Homo sapiens: one gene and its partner. The protein of the gene in region 1 interacts with the protein of each later gene in a pairwise test. Each region holds a gene or a part of one and is shown in the gene's direction. Other genes may lie near its edges. The genes, in order: GPM6B and CLN8.

What was found.
Region 2: the proteins of GPM6B (region 1) and CLN8 interact in a two-hybrid assay, tested with the Homo sapiens proteins (one study listed by BioGRID).

The regions. Positions count from the first base shown.
Region 1 is NC_000023.11:13,806,855-13,810,674, reverse strand, and holds part of GPM6B (neuronal membrane glycoprotein M6-b), read left to right. Parts: intron 1-2,905; coding exon 2,906-3,025; intron 3,026-3,820. UniProt on the Homo sapiens protein: May be involved in neural development. Involved in regulation of osteoblast function and bone formation. Involved in matrix vesicle release by osteoblasts; this function seems to involve maintenance of the actin cytoskeleton.
Region 2 is NC_000008.11:1,783,788-1,787,248, forward strand, and holds the end of CLN8 (protein CLN8), read left to right. Parts: 3' UTR 1-2,783; downstream 2,784-3,461. UniProt on the Homo sapiens protein: Could play a role in cell proliferation during neuronal differentiation and in protection against cell death.

The DNA.
Region 1 (3,820 bases):
CCATGGTTTTTCATTGTCATTGCCTAGCAGCCTATGCTTGCTTGCCTGAACATCTGGAGACTTACCCCATCCATATGAGGAGATGAGCACAGAGCATGGATGAATCTTCTGCAGAGATACCCTGAATTGCATGGCCTGGCTTGGGTAAAAGTCAGCATGGTGGGGGATCTAGAGGTCCATTTCTGGTCCACAGGGTCCCAGGGTGCTCCCTTCCTTTCAACCAAATATTTATTCAGCCAGCGTTTATTGGGCACCTGTGTGCTGAGTATGTAGAGACAAATTTTTTAAAAGGATAAAAATTTCCAGATCAAAAGTGATAGAACTACTTAGAATCCTCTTGCTTAGGGGTCTATGTGGAGGGCTCATAGCCCCCTTTACCAAGAGGAAATCAGATCATACCATGAAGTGCCTTGACCTTCTGTTTTTTTTCTGTCAGCCCCACTGGGTTTTCTTGCCTTTGGAGAATGTAGCAACATCTATTTCTGAGAGAGAATCTCCTGAACAGTAAAGCAAAAATCTAAATCTGTTTTTTGGGGGTTTTTTTTCTTTCTTTTTTTGAGACAGAGTCTCACCCTGTCACCCAGGCTGGAGTGCAGTGGCATGATCTCAGCTCACTGCAACCTCCACCTCCCAGGTTAAAGTGATTCTCCTGCCTCAGCCTCCAGAGTAGCTGGGACTATAGGCGTATGCCACCATGCCCGGCTAATTTTTTTTTTTTTTTTCCTGAGATGGAGTTTTACTCTTTTTTTTTTTTTTTTTGCCCAGGCTGGAATGCAGTGGCGCGATCTCAACTCACTGCAACCTCCATCTCCTGGGTTCAAGCAATTCTTCTGCCTCAGCCTCCTGGGTAGCTGGGACTACAAGTGTGCGCCACTATGCCCAGCTAATTTTTGTATTTTTAGTAGAGACAGGGTTTCACCATGTTGGCCAGGCTGGTATCAAACTCCTCACCTCAGGTGATCTGGCTGCCTCGGCCTCCCAGAGTGTTGGAATTACAGGCATGAGCCACCACACCTGGCCAATTTTTTAATTTTTATTTTTTATATATTTTTTTTATTTTTAGTACAGACAGAGTTTCACCATGTTGGCCAGGCTGGTTTTGAACTCCTGACCTCAAGTGATCCGCCCGCCTTGGCCTCCCAAAGTGCTGGGATTACAGGTGTGAGCCACCGCACCCAGCCCACAAAAATCTCAATCTAAGGAAGACTGAAAGTTAAGAAATTTTAAGAAGCCTGAGATAACATCAGTAGCTTAGGACCTGGACCGTTTCTTTAGGAGACACAGAAGCACAACTCAACTGCAAATGCACCTCAGAAAAACTCTCATTGGGTTAACTGTTGCCTCAGCAGAAGAGTAGAAAATTGCAATACATGCAGAGGTCACAGTAGGATGTATGGTGGTTTCCAAAGTGTGCCCTCTTGAGTGAAATTGCTAAGGTTCACATTCAGGCTTCTCTACCTCCTGGCTGAAAGATCTTGGGCAAGTGATCATTACCTTCTCCTTGCCCTTGGGTTGTTCCCTTGTAAAAATGGAATAATAATAGTACCTATTTCAGAGGGTGGTTGTGACAAATGTAATAAGTACCACATGCTGAGTGCAGTGCATAGTACATCATAAGCACTCCATAAATTTTTGCTGTCATCATCATTGACCACAAAAATAGTTTCATTGTGCAGTTCTGATCTTATCCCAGCATCTTTTCTGTACCTCCCTACCCTGGTTTTAAATGAGTTATGTATACCTTACCTTGAAGTCAAAAAGATTTTTTCTAAAACATTCTAGAAAAGCAGGTTTCTGCTTCCAAACTTGAAATACCTTACAAGTTTTCAGAGATTGTGGAGAGTGGAGTTGGGATTTTATAAAGGCTTTGTGAGGTTTTACTTGCCTCACACTGTGGCTTTAGTAGGTTCTTCTCCTCAGAGACCTGAGCTGCCAGATGGTGCATTATGACCTGATCTTCTGATGGAATCATTACCCACATCAATGGCACAATTTTTTTTTAATCCTTAAATATTTGTGGTGCCCCAGAGGATATAACCCCTTATTAGGTTTTATGGGATTCTCGGAGATAAACTGGCCATAGCGACCTTATGATCTCTTTGAGATTTCAAGATTGTAATTCAACTAACTTTTATGAGAAGCCTACTCTGTGCCAGGCAAATTGGTAGGTATTTTTCTTTGCAATCCCCTAAGAAGTGGGAAATATTGTATCATATTACCAGATAGAGACCTGAGTCCTCAGGGAGTGCCAGCTGTCACCATGTGTGTAATTAAGCAGTGGTTCGAGCCCAAGACCAGTAGCCCTTTCTGTATAGCACATGGGAGAAAATTGGAACAGGATTTAATCCAGAACATTCTAGACTCTGACGTTCTGAGTTTAAGATAAGGTGACAGACAATACTGCAGACGTCAATGGGAGGACAAGCATTTCATCCAAGAAACAGCAGACCATTAGGTTGTTTGCCAGGTTTTCTGGACTAGAGCTGGGTACCCTTACAGAGAGGGAGCCTGCGTTCACCTTTGCTAGTGCAGCTGGCAATAATTATAGTGCTCTGTTAGTGCTCTGTTGGTCTGAAAAGGAAACAGAAAGAAAAATATTATTGTGAGGAGCCAAATTTTCACTATAAATAGTATCTTCCCCAAATGAGCATTTTAAGAAGCAGGATATGGTGTGTGTTGGGGGAAAGATGTAGAAAATAAAGATCATTTTGGTGATTTACATAAACTTCAATTTAGAAACGGAGGACATTCTCAATGGATCATGCTGGTACTGAAGGGTTGCATTTCAATAGCATATTTTTTAAACTCCCCATTTCCTTTCTATGGTAAAGAATAAATAAAAATGCTGATATAGAATCTTTGCTGGAGATAGAGACACTGACTCTTTGCCACCTGAAATTGGCAGTGAACAGCAGAGCTGAAATGGAAATTGGCAGGTACCACTGGATGTACCCAGGCTCAAAGAACCACCAGTACCATCCCGTGCCAACCCTGGGGGACAGGGCTAGCCCCTTGAGCAGTCCAGGTAAATACAGCCTTGGGGTGAATTCTAATAGCAAGTCAACTGTTATCTTTAATATTATTTGTAATGGCTCTTGCAGCTTGGTGATATTTTATGTTTTGCTTGGTGCATTAATTTGTTCACACGGGCATGGGTGGAATTCGCCCTATAAACATTTTTTAATCATCTTTCTTTTTCTCTCTCCCTCTCCATTCCACCCCATCTTTCTCCACTTTCTTCTCCTTCTTCCCTCTTCCCTCTTTCACCTTCAATCACTTCGTCTTCTCAAAGGGAACAATGTACAGTGAGATATGCCTTTGGTTAACCATGAAATTTCCAATGCCTGAACCAATAATGGGGGAGGGGGGCCACCCACATCCCCCATGTGGCCAAGAACTGGGCCAGGGCCTTCAAGGAGCCTTGGCCCTGAGAGTACTGTGAGTGTCCCCAAATGTCTTCCCAGCCCTGCTGCTCTGCACCACCCTCTCACCTCAGTCATTGCCTTTGAGAAAGAGAAATCAAAGCTGTGAAAGTAGGATTGGATAACCATGTACCCGATTCCCATCAGGTAGGTTCAGTGGGTCCGGTTTCCATTTTCCTTGCTCGTGAGGAACATTGGCCATTCAGAACCGCTAGGTGCTGGATCTGGGTGAGGTGTGCGACAGCTGATTTGGGGACCTAGAAGGGGCAAAAGGTGAAGCAGTATGAACATCCAACCTCCCACGTTCCCAAAACCAACACAAGTTGTAATGCCCAGCTCAGTTAGCTAAAACTCAGTGATTTTGCCAGTGTACAACCATAGTTCAAACTACATAAAAT
Region 2 (3,461 bases), on another chromosome or scaffold:
TTCCACTTCTGTCGAGGAGCTTCGGGGCTCAGAGAGGTGATGACGTGCCCAAGGTGACGCAACTCGTGAACAGCCGTGCCTGCCTTGGGCGCAGCCTCCGGCGCCAGAGCTGGGCTCTTCAACACGGCATTTAGCGCAGAAAGTCGTGGTTCAGGCAGTATGGGCCGCTGTGACAAAACACCTAAGACTGGGTAGTTTATAAAGAACAGACATTCAGGCCAGGCACGGTGACTCACGCCTGTAATCCCAGCACTTTGGGAGGCCGAGGCGGGTGGATCATTTGAGGTCAGGAGTTTGAAACCAGCCTGGCCAACATGGTGAAACCCCATCTCTACTAAAAAAACAAAACTAGCTGGGGGTGGTGGTGCATGCCTGTGGTCCCAGCTACTTGGGAGGCTAAGGTAGAAGAATTGCTTGAACCTGGGAGGCAGAGATTGCAGTGAGCCGAGATCACGCCATTGCACTCCAGCCTGGGTGACACAGTGAGACTCCATCTCAAAAAAAAAAAAAGAACGGACATCATTTCTCACAGTTCTGGAGGCTGGAAGTCCAAGATAAAGGTGTGGGCTGATTAGTTTCTGCTGGGAACACTGCATCCTCACGTGGTGGAGGGGATGGAAGGTCAACAGGCCTCAGCTAGTTCTCCGCTGCCTTTTTATGAGGCATTAAGCCATTTGCAAGAGTAGGGGGCCCCACCTCTTAATACCACCGCAATGACAATTACAATGTCATGTGAATTCTGGAGGGGACACGGTCACACTGCAGCATCAGCACCCGGTGAATGTGGTTCTCTTCCCATGTCCGAATTTTGTGAGCTCCACACGGGCAGGGTTGCATCTGTTTTATTCTCTGATTGATTCTAAGCCCCATGTCCCTGGCACAGGATGGCTGCTTGGCAGTAGGGAGTGGATGAACCAGTAGTACCCAGGGCTGCCAGGCAGGGCCCTGCAGGGGACAGACCCAAGGGCTGATATGGGGACACCTGCTGAGGGGGGAATTTACCACGGTAAGGGCAGGGCTGGGAGGCTGGGCAGCCAGTTTCACCCTCGCACAGGCTGCCTGGCAAGACCAGCGGCTGGAGGTGATGTCCTCAGTAGAGAACGGTGGCCACTGGAAACGTGTGGCCAGAAGGGGAAACGCTCGGGCCTCTGGTGGGGGCCAGCCTGGGGTGGGGTCGGCCAGGGTCAGCTGCCTTTCCTTCATGCTGGGGAGGAGATGTTGTGTGCATGTGAGAAAGCATTTGATAGCATGCCAAAAGTTTCCTCCATTATGTGCGTGTCAAGTGTTTGACCAGGTCAGAACTCTTGTTCTATGCGAATGTGCTCACGCAGACAGAAGCGGAGGGGCTCCGTCGCTCTGCCCTCACGCCGCTGAACCGCGAGGGTCTCCCGCTCCTCAGGCTTGCGGCTCGGCCGCGAAGTGTGTCAGGTGTGCATCCTGGGTGCTCCTTTGTGCTCTGTCCTACGGTGACACAGGCGGCGTGGGGTTAGACAGGTACCGGTCAGACTACGGTGACACAGGCGGCGTGCGGTTAGACAGGTACCGGTCAGATTACGGTGGCACAGGCGGCGTGGGGTTAGACAGGTACCGGTCAGATTACGGTGGCACAGGCGGCGTGGGGTTAGACAGGTACCGGTCAGATTACGGTGGCACAGGCGGCGTGGGGTTAGACAGGTACCGGTCAGATTACGGTGGCACAGGCGGCGTGGGGTTAGACAGGTACCGGTCAGATTACGGTGGCACAGGCAGCGTGGGGTTAGACAGGTACCGGTCAGATTACGGTGGCACAGGCGGCGTGGGGTTAGACAGGTACCGGTCAGATTACGGTGGCACAGGCGGCGTGGGGTTAGACAGGTACCGGTCAGATTACGGTGACACAGGCGGCGTGGGGTTAGACAGGTACCGGTCAGATTACGGTGGCACAGGCTGCGTGGGGTTAGACAGGTACCGGTCAGATTACGGTGGCACAGGCGGCGTGGGGTTAGACAGGTACTGGTCAGATGCACGGGCTCCCTAAACCCCTGCTGTGGCTTCGGCAGTAAAGACAGGACGCACCCATGTCACAAGAGGAGCACAGGCAGGGGTGTTGGTGTTGGGGCAGCCCTCAGGGTCTCCAGACCCCAGCCCCACTCACACAGCAGCCTAGGAAGGAAGGGCAGAGTCCCAGGTGTCAGCTGGTGGGTCTCCCAGGAGCTGCCCCTCCCTGGAAGTCACAGGACAGGAATGACAGATCAGGGAACTGCAGGAAGCTGCCACCTCTGGGGTCAGAATATGCCCAGCCTGCGGGGGCTCTCTATCGGGGTCTTCGAGAGCCAGACAGCCTGCCTTGTGCTGCATACCTGGCTTTGCTCTGTGCAGAACCCAGCACACGTGATTTTGTGTGACATGCCAGCAGCCTGGCTCCCAGGACAGGAGGCCTGCCCTGGGGGAGGGGCTGCAGGAGGAGGGGGGGCAGGCACCCATGAGTCTGTCCAGCCTTGTCACAGATGCATCGCCCACCCTGCGGTCCTGATTTCAGCTCACCTCAGAGTAAATCAGAATAAACTGCACCCAGACTTTCACGAATGCATGTTGACGCTTTCAGTTCACCCCTTTCTTTGCTAACTTTCTTCCTATTTTCTTCTAATGCGAGAGCTTATTAATTCCATATTTATCATTTTGAATAACTTTTCTCCTTTTTAGTAACAAAATGTACTTCACTCTTAGTAAAATGTATTTACTATTTTAGTAACAAAAATATACTTGCCTAATCATGTTTAAAATATAGTGATGTGAAAAATTCAGACGTCTCTATTTCCTTTCTTCCGATGACTCAACCCCAAATGTCTGGAATTGATTCCGAGGTATCCAGGACCCACAGCCAGCCATCCAAGAGGAAAAAGAAACCACACCCTTCCTTCTGGGAACCTGGCCAGGAACCCCAGAGCACAGGCGCCTGGCCTTAGTGACACTTCTTTTCCACATCTGCAGGCCCATGGAGTGAATTCATTTCTTTTCTCTCTGCATGTATTTTGCTTTTACCGTTGTGCTGTTTCACGCTTGGCAGCCTCAGTTAGCACTCCAGCCCGCCTGAAGCCGTGCACAGCCCATTCCTGCAGGGTTTGATACCTGCAACCTCAAACCCATCAAAAGAGTCCAAAAATTAAACCAAAGTTAAAATCCTCCATTATTACAGAAAGTTATTAAATGTCAAGTCTCAATCTGAAAAGTTTCTGCCAAAACTTTACATAAAAAACTTTTTTTTTTTAATTTAAAACAGGTTCTCTCTATCGGCCAGGCGTGGAGTGCAGTGGCGTGATCGTGGCTCACTGTAACCTTAAACTCTTAGGCATAAGTGATCCTCTTGCCTCAGCCTCCAAAGTAGCTAGGATCACAGGCGCATGTCACCATGCCTAGCTAATTTTTAAATTTGTTGTGTAGAAATGGGGTCTTGCTGTCTGGCTCAGGTTGGTCTCAAACTC